Regions from separate parts of the Homo sapiens genome. Here region 1 is linked to region 2. A link means that fine-mapping ties the variant in region 2 to the expression of a gene that starts in the linked region. Tissue or cell type: whole blood. Region 2 holds a variant in brackets; the other region holds the start of a gene. All regions are shown on one strand. Distances are between the middles of the regions.

Region 1 (8,097 bases), 140 kb after region 2:
ACGCCTGCTACAGAGATCCTAATTGTTAAAGATCTTTGACCCACAGCATATATATTCCTTCAACATGGCAGGCCCTCTTGGCCTTGGCTCATTTCCACTTGAGATTGGTTTTGTTCAGTATTATATACATACATACACGCAGCATAATACAGGACATATTATAATGCAGTCAAAATTTATGTTTTATTCACATACTATCTCCTACTGGTACTTGTTAGCTCAAAACATCTTCCATAGGGAGATATACATAAGAGATATTAGCTCAGGCCAATTAGCAAGGCTGAAGACGTAAAAGAAACCCACTCTAATGTCAAATTAATGCTGAAAAATTATTATGGTTTAAGTTTCCTGGAAACTTTCACGTTGTTAGAATGTGATCACCATGTGAACTAGATACATGTTCCTTCCAGACAATGAAAGCTGGAAGTATCATCTCAGCCTTCCATTGATGGACATTATCAATATCCCTTACCAGGAGGCAAGCCATCCACTCCTTTGAAGTAAAATCTCCAAGTAGAACTCTCTTTTAGTCTTTAACAAGAGTCCTTAATGTCACTCTGTAACCCCAATAATTCCTGGTCTCCAATCTACCTTTTCCTGGACAATTTTAATCTGTAGCAATATTTATTTATTTATTTATGAGATGGGGTCTTACACTATTGCCCAGACTGGAGTGCAATGGTGTGATCATGACTCACTGCAGCCTCAACCTTCCCGGCTCCAGTGATCCTCACACTACAGCCTCCCAAGTATCTGAAACTACAGGTGTGTGCCACCATGCCTGGCTCATTTTTTTTTTGTTCGTTTTTCTGTAGAGACAGAGTTTTGCCATGTTGTCCCGGCTGGTCTCTAACTCCTGGGCTCAAGAACATTTGACTGCCTTGGTCTCCCCCAAAGCGCTGGGATTACAGGTGAGCCACCGCGCCCGGCCTGATTTGTAGTAATTTAAATCCAAGTAAACCTCAACAGTAGCAGTATCTTGGGGCATTTAAATTTTACTTTAACCAACTGATAAAACCAAACTTGAATATGACAATTTCATAGGGCATAAGCAAATTCCATGGACTCCTTACATTTATGGTCCTAGATTAATAATATTTTGGTGTTTGAACAGAGTATTTGTAATCTATGTAAGTAAAGGACATGAGGGGAAACACACTTTACTTTCTAAAATTATTCCTCTCCATCACCCTCTTTCTCTAAGCCTTCTTTAATTATGGATTGAAATTTAGTTAGGTCTATCTGGTTCATTCAGATACCTGTAAGAGAGGTCATTTATAGCATAACATCACACCAGGTGATTTAAGCTCCTCTCCTACACAGTTTCAAATACAGAAAAGCAATGACCATTCTTAGAAAAGATCTTCACTAGTCATCCACAGTCAGAGGGACATTTAGAAGCAATTGCAAAAACTGTGGAGACAACGTACAGTTTTTCTCAGCACAATTTACATAGATGTCTGGCTAGCTCTTCCTTGTAAAAGTCCAGTGTCTTCATTTGATGTGCTAAGTTAAACTGTAAACTCCTGAATAATTTGAACTCTTATTTAGGAAAAAAATGTTTTTTCACCTATATACTATAAAAAATGGTGACGTTTATCACAAGGGTCATGCCGTGGGCTCCCATAAAAGACATTGTAGAGCACGATAAAGAACGTTTTCTCCCAGAAGAACATTTATTTCTAAAACCCAGTTCCCCATGTTAAACATCACCTTTGGTTTATCCTTCAGACTCACCGTACCCATGATGTTTAAAATTGCAACCCACACCTGCACTCCCAATTCCCTTTCTCTGTTCTCCTTTTTCATTTTTTCATAGCATTTGTACTTTTCTAACCTAATATACAAATATGTTTTTTATCATTCTTTGCTAGAATGTAAGCTCCAGAGGGAAGGGATCTTTGTCTCTTTTGTTCATTGATGCATCCCAAGCATCAAGGACAGGACGTGATAGAAAATCAATTTTTGTTGAATAAATGAATGAATCTAGGTTGAGTTCAGTAAAAAAATATCTCTGGAGTAAGTTAGTTTCCAATTTTATTTCTACAATTAACAAATACCTTCTGAGCTTCAATTATGGTGGAGATAGATTGATCATACCCTTACAAATATATAATATCAGATGGTGATTAAGTGCTACAAAGCCGAACCAGCAGTACAAGAGTTTGGAGAGCCAGACATTTTAGGTGAGGTAGTCACCTCTCTGAAATGATGGCAATTGTTTCAAGACTTAAATAAAGTTCTGTGCCATGCAGATTTGCGAAGAGTGGGAAAGTGAGCATTGAGCATACTGGAAATACCAAACGCAGACGCCCTGGGATGAGGGTCCGCTTGGCGAGCCCAGCAAGAGCAATAAGGCCTGAGTGGTGGAAGTGGGGTATGCAAGAACGTATCATTCTTGTTGCTTTTACCTGCTGCTTAATAACACGCATGTACTGTCTAGCAGGAAATAAAGAGATTACGTTTCACCTAGAATACTCATTCTCTGAGCCTAAGTGGCTCTTCTATTCCAGCCCCCAAATATCTGTATCAGCACATCATATAAGATTACAAAGCACAGAGTAATGACATTGTTAGAAACTCTTCACAGTAGCCCCAGGAGTCACGAAACTGACTTAACTAAGACCCACTGTCTAGTAAGGTGTAAAACCCAGCAGGAACGCAATACTAGGAAGGTGCAAAGCCAGGAGGCTCAATAAACGTTAAACAGTGTCTGGGGGAAAGAGCAACGATCCAGAGCACTGTTTGTGAACTCAACCACTTTTATTCAGCTCTGACAAGGTAAGTCGCCAAGCGCGGTACAAAGTAGCTCCATGAAATGCGTTTTGTTATAGTCCTGGTCTCGAACTGTTGCAACATTTTATGTAATTTTTGCAAAGAACAAAAGCAAAAAGTTCATTCTAAATTAGCCTTCCAACTCAGTTCTTTCTCCGCCAAGACGGAGCACTTGGAAAGTTTTCAATGTCTGAAAACCTCTATTTCCAGGGCTGAGCAGAGCACTATGTTGCGGCTTAAGACGCTCGGCGATTTCTTCCCATCCCTCCGCAGTTCCAAAACGGCTTCGCCTAACAAAGTCAAACTTTTCGCGCTATTCCTGGACATCAGGACCAAATGTCGAAAGCATATACTGCCACTGAGTTAGTGAGCCGGGCCGGTGCCCGGGACCTGGGGTACTAGATTTATGGGACGGGAGCCTAGGGGTCGAGGCCACAGAAATGAAAACATCGGCAACATATGCAGTGCAGCGAGTGGGTTAGGAGGGAGAAACTTCAGGCAGGACGCTCCCTCGGGACCTGTGACGCCCCCCCAGCCACACCAGACGTGGGAGCTTAGGATGAGAGCGGCCTCCGAGCAGATGATCACCCTGGAACGACGCCAAACGCGACCCCTACCAGAGGACTCGCGCATGCGCAGCGCAGCCTGGGCCGGCGGCCTGGGCAGGATGTAGTCGCGAGCAGCGCACCGGGCCCACGCCAGCGGAATTGCGCATGCGCAGGGCCGCCTCTGCCTGCGGCCTGGGCTGGGTGTAGCCCCGGAACCTAGCTCTTAACTCCCGCCAGCAGTTTTACGCATGCGCGACGACGCCTAGGCCTGTGGCACGGTCGCGGCTCTAGTCCCCTGGGCCCCTCAGCTGTCTCTGGCGGGGAGGTCGGGCCGCAGGGGCGGGGAGGGGTGGCCTGCCCCAGTGGTACCTGACAGCATCCCACGTCACGGCCGCGATCCCCCTCGGCCTCCCACACCACTCCTCCACCCTCTTACCTCCTCGCAGGCCGGAGCCTTGTCCGCTCCGCCTCCTGGGTAGCGGTTACTGCACGGTCAGGGGCCCGGCGCCGCGATGAGTTGGCGCCTCCCCCTGAAACGGCCCGGCCTCGGCGGGATGCGCTCGGGTGCCCGGCCGAGACGGAAACGAAGGGAGCGCAGACAAGAGGAGGGGGCTGGCGACGGCGTCTCGCCCCTCCTCTCCTCCCTAGGCTGCCCACCGCCGCCCCTCCCCTTTCTCGCAGACGCCCCCTCCCCTCGGAGTTGACCCCCGGGAGTCTCCCATTGGGGCCGCCTCCGCTTTTCCAGGGAGTTCCTCCGTGGGTCACCCCCACCTTCTCCAGGGTTATGTTCTCGCAAATTTTGGGAATTTGTGGATACCCGACCTAGAAGGATAAGGCGTGTATGATGCTGAGAGCAACCTTTTCCACAGCCCCTCTCCTCCAGCCTGCCCCAGCTTTTCTTCTATTGCTGGCCCCTCTATCTGGGGGCTCCGATCACTTCACGTTTTCACCCCATTGCTGTGGGGCGGAAGTCTTGTAGCCCCCTGTAGTACAAATGCTGAAATAATGAGGATGTGTGCTGGGGGGTTCAGGGGGATGACCTCAGTTACCTTGGGGCCAAGGGCTTCGAAAACAGCCACCTTCTCCCCTTATGATTATATTTTGCAGTAATTTATTATATTACACTGCACTTCTGTTGGCCTTTGTAGATTTAAGTAAAATGCACCACAACTTTGCAGTGTGCAATAATTTCTTCCACTGCACTACACTTAAATTGACCTGAGTGGGTTTTGGTTAAATGCTCAACAATTAAATGTTATTAGCTATTCCTGTGAAGTAAGCTACTTGCTTTTATACTGGCTGTTTCATGAGGACACTGGTTCCTCTACAGTGTAGAGCCAAAAGTAGTAAAGCCAAAGAGAAAAACTAACATTCCAAACCACAGTGACCGTGTCAGTCTGTTTCGTCTGGCTTTTGTCATTTCTTCGGAAAAACATCATTCTAAAATGTATAACTGCCTTTCTGCTACATAGGGCAGACATTTATCTCTATTCTCTGAGCATAGCCCACTGAGCCTCAGAAGGAGGCACGCAAAATGGTACACAGGTATTTCTTGTAGAGCTCTAAATGGAAGAAAAAGTAAGTATACATTAACAGGAAGTTGCAGCGATAGTGCAGAGAGGCATCGTGTGCCTGCCCCAAGTTTCTCCACTGGTTACATCTTATCAATGAAAGAAATTTATGAGTTAAACAGGTTTGCTCTCAGAAAAAGCTCACTTCAGTGATGATAGCTGGCATTTTTTTTTTAAGCACCTATTGTGTGCCAAGAGGTTTATCTTATTTGGAGCTCACAATAATCCTGTAAGGCAAGGATTATCCTTACTTTACAGATAAGGCAACTCAGGCCCCAAGAGATTAAGTTTCTTTCATCAGCAACCATGGCAAGATCTGTTTGCCTTGCGCACTTGGTCTTTTACGCATTATGGACAGCTGAAGTTCATGCAGGCCTTACGGTGTGCTTCAGCTGAAGCCTGACAATTAGCTAACAATAAAAACATGTCTTAGTGTTTTGAAAACTGTGATATTATCTCAGAAGTTAAAACTTTAAAATATACCTATAAAAGAATGTGTTTCACTAAAGATTTTAATTTTATATGGGTCCAACAGTTTTTCCCAGGGCGGTCAAAATTAAAAGTAAGAAGTAAAAATGTCTCCATCACATATAAGTTTCCTTCAACACTTTTGGATAATTTGGTCTACTAAACTTCACTGTATTGCTGAATTCAGTAGACTAAAAATTTAGACTCTGAGAGAGTATAGGTTAGTATTTCAGGAGTTAAAGTTCCCATCACCACATCTCCCAAGTTTACCTACATCTGTACCTGTGCACTCTATTCCTTCCCATTACTGGGAATGAGCTGTGCATGCTCTTATTTAAGTTCAACTCTTCCACCTTTGTATTAGATCCTGTCTTCCTTACAGTCTCAAGGTTTTCACTCAGGTAGTTGTCACCTCTCAATCCTACATTATTAATTTTTGTATCATTAATTTTTGGATCATTCCCATAAGCATATTAACATTGCGCAACATTTGCCTATCTTTTAAAAAGTTCCTTGATTATATGTCCCCTATCAGCTACCAATGTGTTCTCTGGTCTCTTCCAAAATGTCTTAAAAGAGTCACTTATACTAACTGTATCCTCATCCCCTCCTCCTATTCATCCTCTTTTTTTTTTTTTTTTTTGAGATAGAATCTTGCTCTGTTGCCCAGGTTGGAGTGCAGTGGCGCAATCTCAGCTCACTGCAACCTCCACCTCCCGGGTTCAGGTGATTCTCATGCCTAAGCCTCCCAAGTAGTTGGAACGGCAGGTGTGTGCCACCATGCCCAGCTAATTTTTGAATTTTTAATAGAGATGGGGTTTCGCCATGTTGGCCAGAATGGTCTAGAGCTCCTGACCTCAGGTGATCTATCCACCTCAGCCTCCTAAAGTGCCGAGATTATAGATGTGAGCTATCATGCTTGGCCCTCCTATTCATTCTTGAATCTATTTCAGCCAGGCTTTTGCCCCTACCCCTCCATTGAAACTCCTCTTGGCAAAGTCACCAATGACCTCAGAATTGCTAAATCAGTGGTTACTTTTCCATTATCTCACCTGAACTATCAGCAGCATTAGAAGCATTTGCTTACAGCTGCCATCTTGAAGCATTCATCTTCTTCTGTTGGCCTTCAGGTGGCCCCTGTCTCTTGGTTCGTCCATCTCACTGGCAGCTCCATTGGCTCATCCACCACTTCTCCAGCCATTGGCATACCCAGAGTTTGGTTCTTGGACTTCTCTATCTTCTCGTTCCCTTAGTAATTTTATTTCAAGACATGGTTTTAGTCCTGCCACTTCTTATGTCCTAACAAGTTCATGACACTACTCTTGTGAAACTAGGAGCCCTTGTCCTTTTCCAGCCCACAATGGGGATCTAGCTGCAATAAAAGTCTTCCCTTTCTTCCCTTTTTAAACCCCCTAATTACTTCTGCTTTTGGGGTATCTTTAAGCCTCCTTTAGTTATCCAAAAGCAGAGGAATTCATCTTGCTTTTTTCTTTTCAGGTATCCAGGCACCAAGGCCCTAATCACAAGAAAAGGTGGATGGGGCCGTCTTTTGACTTTTTCTTGGAAATTCAGAAAGTCTAATTACGCTTCAGGGAAGAGGAAAATGTTCTTTTTTTCCTCTTTGCGTCTCCAGAACAAAAATTTAGCACCAGTAAATTTCTACATCAGTCTGCTTGTTACAGATTGAATGCATGAATGAATGACTGCAAGCAGCCTGCACTTTGGTGCCCTAAGTGCCATTGATTAGGTGAATGACCTTGGGTAGCACCTTAGTTTTCTAGAACTTAAATTCCTTCAGACTCCATTAAATTGGTGCACTGCCCAGCTCTGTGTTTTGTAGAGGTATCAGTCACACTGCACCTTTACTGATGCATGCTATTACCATGCTGTATAGAATTGTGCATGTCAGCATGGTATTATAATTGGTGTTAGAATATAAAAGTGATAAAGATGATAATAGGCACATATACACTTACTGTGGCAATAGTGAAAGAATGACAAAATACCAAGAGGTGATCAGAGAAGGCTTTCCAAAACAGATTACTTTAGCATTAAGTTTTCAGTGTGGGCTGGGTGCCATGGCTCATGCCTGTAATTCCAGCACTTTGGGAGGCGGAGATGGGCGGATCACTTGAGGTCAGGAGTTCTTGATCAGCGTGGCCAACATGGTGAAACCCCGTCTCTGCTAAAAATACAAAAATTAGCCAGGCATGGTGGTGGGTGCCTGTAATCCCAGCCACTTGGGAGGCTGAGTCAGTGTGAGTTAGCTAAGAGAACAAAGGTTAGGGATGGAAGTGTTAGGGAAGGGAAGTAGTCTAAGTAGAATAAGAAATATGATGTGTTTGAGAATTATAAATTGCTCAGTAAGGCTGAAACAAAGGCTATATGGAGGGAATAGGGCAATGGTAGGAAATTAAAGTAACCATTCATTCATGAATGGACACTAAGGATGATTCTTTATCTCAACAATTGTGAATAGTGCTGCAGTGAACATGGGAGCACAGATATCTCTTCAACATACTGATTCATTTTTGTTGGACATATACTCAGTAGTGAGATTGCTAAAAATAGTCCTATTTTTAATTTTTTGAGGACCTCTGTACTGGTTTTCGTAATGCCTGTACTAATTTACATTCCCATCAACAAAGGTTCCTTTTTCTCCACATCATTGCCAACACTTGTTATTTTTCATCTTTTTTATAATAGCCATCTTTACAGGTGTGGGGTGATATCTC
Region 2 (8,107 bases):
TGTCATAATAAAAAATTCTCGTTAAAACTGTAGATTGATAGGAACATATTCACACAGAGTTGTTGACTGAGGGAAATTTCAAATGAGGTGCTGCTTACTTCTCTCCTGCCAATAATTTAATGAAAGAAAGAACATCATCTTATTTTTAATGGTTGTGTGGGGAACTGGGTTCAGCATTTTTGCTTGACAGCCTTGAGATAAAATAAATCCATAAGGAAAAAGCCCACTTCTGTTTCTTTTCATCCCAGAGAGATTAATGGGCAATATATGAGTGTAAGATACTGGAAAAGTCTGTTGAGAAACCTAGTGAAATCTCATTCTCTGAAAAGTTGGGGGATTACAGGTGCTATCGAATGCATCATACCTAAGGGTTAGATGAAATGACTTCCAAGAGTTTGGCCCTATTAAATCTGTTAAGAGGTTTATAATGCCAGCAGGTGATGAAATGAAATTTGGATGCCTTAGTTTCAGTATTTTCAGAATTTATCATATTTTTTCAATAAATGTTTATAAATCAAAGTATGTCAGATGCTTTATTCCCTATATGATCTGTCTTTCCTGGACTATTCTGGACTCTTCCTATTGATCTCTCATTTGCTACCTTGAGACCATTTCTCTCACAGCAGCCAGAGAAATCTGCTCATAATGTAAATCTCATCATGCTAATTCCTCAGGTAAAAAACCTCCTGTGGAGGACATATTCATCTGGTAATGTTGGAAGAAGACCCTACCATATGGCTTTCTGCAAAAAAGACCACTATACTACCTGTTTGGAATACAAAAAGTAACTGACTGAAATTACTGGACAGGAAGAACAGATGCTAGTTGAGAAAGAGAAGAGGGGAGCTGGGAGCCTGAGGAGAAGGCTTTTAGTCTAGGGCTAAGTGCAGTAGGTATAGGGAAGGACAGTAAGGTAGGGCAGGGATGTCAGTGGGAAAACTATGGGTCTCTTCACCAGGAAAACTGGAAAATTGAAGCTAGGGAAACCTTGGCCACTGAAGAGAGTGGAAGAATCCTGCAAGGGAAAGAGCCAAGAAAGGGTACCCAGATTCTGTCTGAAATCTGAATAATTCCTGTGTGTCACAGACTCAGAGCAGCCAAATGAAGGGCAAAAGATCTGAACTGAAACTGGAGTTGCTGCCCAATAAACAGAACAGTTCAAGTTAAGCAAAGATAATTGCTTCTTACAACAAAACCATTCTCATTTTAGAAAAATAACAGAATTTAGGATCTTCACAATGTAACATTTATGATGTTCAGGATACAGTTCTAAAATTATCCAGCATAGAAAGAAGGTCAAAGAAACCAAATGCTGGTTTATAGAATAGGAGCTTTAGGCCAGGTGTGTGGTGCACACCTAATCCCAGCATTTTGGGAGGCTGAGGTGGGAGGATCATTTGAGCCCAGAAGTTCAAGACCAGCCTGGGCAACAAAGCAAGACCCCATCTCTTAAAAAAAAAAAAAAAAAGCTAGGTGTGATGGCATGGTGGCATGTTCCTGTGGTCCTAGGTACTTGGGAGGCTGAGGCAACACAGCGAGACTCTGTCTCAAAAAAATAAAAAATAAAAACAAAAAAACTAGAATGGGAGCTTTAAGTTAACTTTGGTTAGGCATTGCTAAATGATGGGGATACATTCTAGGAAATACTTCATTTAGGCAACTTTGTCATTGTGTGAACATCATAGAGTGTGCTTACACAAACCTAGGTGGTATAGCCTGCTACACATCAGGGTAGGAATAGCCTGTTGCTTCTAGACTACAGACCTGTATGGTATTTTTTTTTTAATCTCCACTCTTGAGTATGTCTTTTTAATATTCAATGTGATGAAACTGAAGTATGTAGAAAGTTGCATACCAAAGTATGATAGCTGTCTTGAGGAAAAATACTTATTTTATTGGTTGAGTTGTGAACTGAACCCGTCACTCTTTTCGTGAAACACATGTGTTACTTGTAAGACTGATAAGCAATTGTGTTTATTTATGCTTGGGTATGTGGTAGATTCTTGAAAGTGAACAAAGTGAGCCTGTCATTTCAAAGAAAACAACTGACAGTAAAGGTTGCCAATGATAAATTTTGTGTTTTCAAGTAAAAATTAGAATTTTAGAAACTTGTATCCACCACTGAAAGCTTGACAGAGTCCTAATATATAAAATACTTTTCTGATGAAATCGGTGGTGATATCAATGAATGTGAGAGATTTGTAAACATTTACAAGAAGTACATAATTCAGTGAACCAGTATTTCCAAATGACCAAATACATCGTTATAAAATCATTCACGGGTAAGATATTCATTAAAAGTTCAAGATAAACCAATGGATTTTAAAGTCTTAAAATACGAAAAATTTATTTCGGTTCATTGAGATTGTTTCCAGTTCCGCCCTGCAACTAACCTTTAAGAAACTATGACTTGTCGAGTTTTGGCGTAGTGTCAGAAAACAGTAACCATAATTATCTGAAAAGGTTATTAAAGTACTCCTCCTCTTTCCATATGAGGCCAGATTTTTCTTTGTATACTTCAACCTAAACAGCATATTGCAACAAAGTAAATGTAGAAGCGGATAGGAAAATTCAGCTCTTTGCTGTTATGCCAGATAGTGAAGACATTCAGAAGATCATAAAACAGTGCTATTGTTCTATCTTTTTTGTTTTGTAGAATATGGTTATTTTTCATTAAAAATTATTTATGTTAACATAATGGGTTTATTAAGATAAATATTTTTAAATTTTCTCAAGTTCTTTTGAGCCCTCAACATCCTTTAATGTAAAAAAGCTATTAGCTACTTTATGCTTCCTAATGGAAGAATATATAACCACCTTGAAAACATGATGTTGAAAGAAGCCAGTCACAGAAAACCACATATTGTATAAATTCATTTATATGAAATGTCCACAAGAGGCAATTCAGTAGAGATAGGAAGTAGATTATTGGTTTTCTAAGGCTGGTGGGGAGGACTAGGTGTTTTGAGGATGATGGCTAGAGAGTATGGTTTTTCTTTTTGAGATAATGAAAATGTTGTAAAATTGACTCATTATTGTAGTCAATTTTATAACACTTTTATCATCTCTGTGAATATACTAAAAACTATTGAATTGTACACATTAAATGGGTGAATTGTATAGGATGTAATTTTTTAAATTTCTGTTTTAATTAAATTTTAACTAAATTAAGTTTTAATTACTAACAAAGTAAATATTAATAGATTTAACCCACACAAACAAAAGCTTTTGGGGTCCTTAGTAATTTTAAGAATATAAAAGGGTTTTGAGTCCAAAAAGTTTGAGAACCCTTGCCTGTATTCTCTTCCCCACTCAGACTTGTCTTTCACTCACACAACCATGTTTGTTTTTGCCTGTCCCTGAGTCTTGAAATGCTTTCCTCTGCCTTTTTCTTGACCAGATTTTAAGGTCCATTTTGCCTTTCCTGATCATCCTAGTCTATAGTCATTCTTCCCTCATTTAGTCTTAAATTGTTTATTATCTATATACTTAACTAGTCATTTATAAACTTTGTTTTACTATATGTGCATATCTCATGTTAAATTCATGTAAAGTACTTAAAACAATATCTGACATTGTATTATAAAATGTAGCAGTTAATTACATAAGGGTAAAGAACAGAGAGGAGTCAACTTATGATGACATGCAGGTTTCTGGCTTGTATAACTTAAGTGGATAGTAGTGTCATTCATTAAAATAAGATACCTAGGATTGAATGAGGTTTGCTTGGGAAGATGAATTTCATTTGATGAGTTTTAAGTAATTATAGGTCATTTCAATAGAGGTGTCAAGTAGCAGTTGGATATGTGTGTCTGGAACTTAGGAAAGAAATCTAGGCTAAGATTATGGACCATAAAAAATGCCACCCTTTTTTGACAGTTTATCTTGTGCCAGGCACTTTGGTGAGCACTTCTTAAATTTAATTTTCATCATAATCCATGAGGTAGTTTACCCTAGATCAGGAAATGAATGCTTAGAAAAGTTTAATAACTTGCCCTAGACCACACAAGCAAAATGGCAAGATCTGTGATTTGAACCCAGGTCTTTCTGGCTCCAAAGCTATTAATCCTTATGCTTTGCTGAGTAACTGAAGTTTGGAGAAGGGATAAGATCACTTAAGGGGAGAATATAGTATGAGAAGAGAAGGAGGCTAAAGATAGAATTCTAAGGAGCTCTAACATTTAAAGGATGGACAGAAAAGAGAAGCCTGTGCCTACAAAAGAGATTGAAATAGAACAGCCAGGAAGATAAGAAGAAAATCAGGAGAAGTGGTATCATAGAGAGACCGACCAGGTGCAATGGCTCCCGCCTGTAATCCCAGCACTTTGGGAGGCTGAGGCAGGTGGATCACTTGAGGCCAGGAGTTCGAGACTAGCCTGACCAACATGACAAAACCCTGTCTCTACTAAAAATACAAAAATTAGCTGGGCCTGGTGGTGAATGCCTGTAATTCTAGCTACTCGGGAGGCTGAGGCATGAGAATCGCTTGAGCCCGGGAGGCGGAGGTTGAGTGAGCCAAGATTGTGCCACTGCACTCCAGCCTCAGTGACAGAGCAAGACTCTGTCTCAAAAATAAAATAAAATAAAATTAAATTAAATTAAAAACTGAAAAAAAGGAAAAGGAGAGAGAGAACATTACAAAGTCTGAGTGAGTGCTTGCTCACTCAGACTTTTCAGATAGGAGCTGAAAAGTTTTAGCAACAATGAAGTCACTGGTGACAGTGACAAGGACTGTTAAATGAAGGGGTGGGGATAGGATGAGATCTGAATGAGAGATAAAGTGGACACAGTCAAATAGATGGCTTTTATCAAAAGTTTTGCCTGTGAAGAGAAATAAAGATATAACAGAAGTAAAGATACAGCTTGATGTATGTGAAGTAGAGGGAATATAAACATATTTTTTAAATCAGAAAGGTAGGGTTTAAATATTGATGGAAAAGAGCCATTAGAAGTGTTCTCTATTGCTGGATAACAAATTAGTGGCTTTAAACAAATATTTTATTTTGCTTATGATTTTTTGGGTCAGGAATTTGGGTTGAACTTGACTGGGTGGTTTGTCTCC[G/T]ACTATGTGTCAGCAGGTGCCTGGAGCTATAGGGTCCACTTCCAAGATGCTTCTTCACTCACAGGTCTGGCATCTTACCGCTCCTTGGTGCACACTCAGCTCTCTTCCTCCCATCCTCCCTCCCTAGAGTGGTTAGAATGTTAAGCTTTGGAGTTTTCACCTGCAGAGAGAAGATAGGAGATTCATAGTGAAAGTAGAGGTTTTAAGAAACAGGATATTTGGCAGGGTGCAGTGTCTCACACCTGTAATCCCAGCACTTTGGGAAGCCAAGGTGAGAGGATTGCTTGAGCCCGAGTTCAAGACCAGCCTTGGCAACATAGGGAGACCCTGTCTCTACAGATAATTTTTAAAATTAGCCAGGTGTGGTGGCACACACCTGTGGTTCTTGGGAGGCTGAACTGGGAGAATTGCCTGAGCCTGGGATGTTAAGGCTGCAGTGAGCTGTGATTGCACCACAGCACACCAGCCTGGGTGGTAGAATGAGATCCTGCCTCAAAAACAAACAAAACAAGCAAACAACCCCAAAACAAACAAACAAAAAGTAACAGGATATTTCATTAAATAATTCATTCATTAAATAATGAAGTTGAACGTAATGAATTTAATGAAGTTTAATAGGTGTAGTGGGAGTAACAATGAGAATGAAAGTGTAGGAGGTTGTAGTCAAAGAGTTGTTTCACCTTAGAATTTCTGGAGACAGAACATTTCTGGGTAGTTTACTGTATTTTAAGAAATGATCTTGGGAGTGCATGAGGATCCTGGCCAAGGAGCCAGAAAGTACAGTGAGCAAGAGTCCAGGACATGTAGCAAGGAGGAATGTGACTGAAATAAAGACTAATGTCTTCAGTGCTTGAGGGGAGTAACCAGGAGACAAGTGGGACTAAATGGGGCAGAGGGCTAGAGAGGTCCTGAAAGCAAAACTCCTGGCTCACTTAAAAAAAAACTAATCTCTCTCTCAATACCTAATCTAATGTCTAACATATAGAATTTAGGTGCATAAAGCATTAGATTTGTAATGTCCTTTGATGAATTTACCTCTTTAATCATTATAAAATGACCCTCTCTTTATCCCTCGTAATATTGTTTGCTCTGAAAACTACTTGTGCCTGATACTAGTGAAGCCATTCCAGCTTTCTTCCCATTAATATCAACATGGCATATTTTCCCCATTCTTTATTTAACTTATACGTGTCTTTATTCTTAAAGAAGTGATTTTCTTATAGGCAGCATATTGTTGGGTGTTGCTTTCTTAAATCTTGCCTAACAGTATCTGCCTTTTAATTGGGATGTTTAGATTTAAATTTAATGTGACTATTGATATGGTTGGGTTTAAATTCTCCATCTTATTATTCATTTTCTATTTGTCTCATCTCCCTTTTCCTCCCTTTCCTCTTTTTCTGCCTTCTTTTGGATTGAATTTTTAAAATTCTGTTTTATCTTCTTTGTAGGCTTACTGTCTATACTTCTTTATTTTGTAATTGTTTTTTGATTTATAATATGAATCTTTAATCTTTAATAGTCTTTCTTTAAATAGTATTACACTACTTCACATACAGTATAAGAATCTTAGAATAGTATATTTCCATTTTCCCTTTTCCAACCTTTGGGCTGTTGTTGTCATACATTTTGCTTCGACAGAAGTTATAAGCTCTACAATACACTCATAACTTTTGTTTTAAACCAATTATCTCTTAAAGAGAATTCAAAACAAGAGAAAAAAGATGTTTTTATTTGATTACATATTTACCTTTCCAGTACTCTTCATTCCTTGTGTAGATCCAGATTCCTTTTGTTTTCCTTCTGACTGTAAAACTTTTTTTGGCCAGGGGCAGTGGCTCATACCCGTAATCCCAACACTTAGTGGGGCTGAGGCGGGAGGATCTCTTGAAGCCAGGAGTTCAAAACCAGCCTAGGCAACAAAGCAAAACTCTGTCTCTATTCTTATAAAACAAACAAAAAGCATTTCTATTTTTTTTTTCTTTTTGAGATGGAGTCTCTCTCTGTCACCCAGGCTGGAGTGCAGTGGCGCGATCTTGGCTCACTGCAACCTCCACCTCCTGGGTTCAAGCGATTCTCCTGCCTCAGCCTCCTGAGTAGCTGGGATTACAGGCACACGCCACCATGCCTAGCTAATTTTTATATTTTTAGTAGAGAAAGGGTTTCACCATGTTGATCAGGCTGGTCTCGAACTCCTGACCTCGTGATTTGCCTGCCTCGGCCTCCTCCCAAAGGGCTGGGATTACTGGCATGAGCCACCGCACCCAGCCAACAAAAAACATTTCTTGTGTGCATGTCTACTAGTGATGAATTCTTCCAGCTTTTATGTCTGGAAAAAAACATTTTACCTTTATTTTTAAAAGGTCTTTTGCTGGGTATTGAATTCTAGGTTGACAGTCTTTTTGTTTTTTCTTTGAGTGCTTTAAAAATATTGCTCCACTGTCTTCTGGTTTGCCTTGTTTCTTTTTTTCTTTTTTTTGAGATGAAGCCTCGCTCTTTTGCCCAGGCTGGAGTGCAGTGGCATGATCCCAGCTCACTGCAACCTCTGCCTCCCAGGTTCAAGCGATTCTTCTGCCTCAGCCTCCTGAGTGACTGGGACTAAAGGCACATGCCACCATGCCCGGCTAATTTTTGTATTTTTAGTAAAGATGGGGTTTCACCATGCTGGCCAGGCTGGTCTCGAACTCCTGATCTCAGGTGACCCACCCACCTTGGCTTCCCAAAGTGCTGGGATTACAAGCATGAGCCACCACGCCTGGCCTTGTTCTTTTTTTGCTGTATCTTTTTCCTGCAGGTTTTTCTTTCTGTATTTCATGTTGAATACCTTCTAAAGCTATGTCTTCAAGTTTATTAATTTTTTTCTTCTGAGGTATCTAATCTGCTATTAATCTCATTTATTGTATTTTTAGTCTTACTATAGTTTTCATTTCTAGAAATTTGATTTGGGTCCTTTTTATATCTTCCATATCTATTTTTATTATGTTTATGCTTTTCTTTACCTTCTTGAACATATGGGATATAGGTATTATAACTTTTTAAATGTCCCTG

What was found. PIP is the estimated chance that this variant, and not a neighbour inherited with it, causes the effect.
Region 1: RCBTB2 starts here. The variant in region 2 is fine-mapped to the expression of RCBTB2 in whole blood (TOPMed, PIP above 0.99).

The regions. Positions count from the first base shown.
Region 1 is chr13:48,529,269-48,537,365 of GRCh38, forward strand. It overlaps RCBTB2 (RCC1 and BTB domain containing protein 2), which reads right to left and starts at 3,812. Exons shown (of 15, transcript NM_001268.4): 1 at 3,760-3,812. It overlaps LOC124903174 (a long non-coding RNA gene), which reads left to right. Exons shown (of 2, transcript XR_007063795.1): 1 at 1-2,781. RefSeq lists enhancers at 2,128-2,297, 3,188-3,427 and silencers at 3,468-3,867, 3,978-4,027.
Region 2 is chr13:48,384,591-48,392,697 of GRCh38, forward strand. The region is part of intron 17 of RB1 (RB transcriptional corepressor 1); the gene reads left to right. It also overlaps a transcript of LPAR6 not described here. Among named protein-coding and RNA genes, the nearest start is that of LPAR6, 24 kb to the right of the region's middle. The variant G/T (reference allele first, on the strand shown) is at 5,063.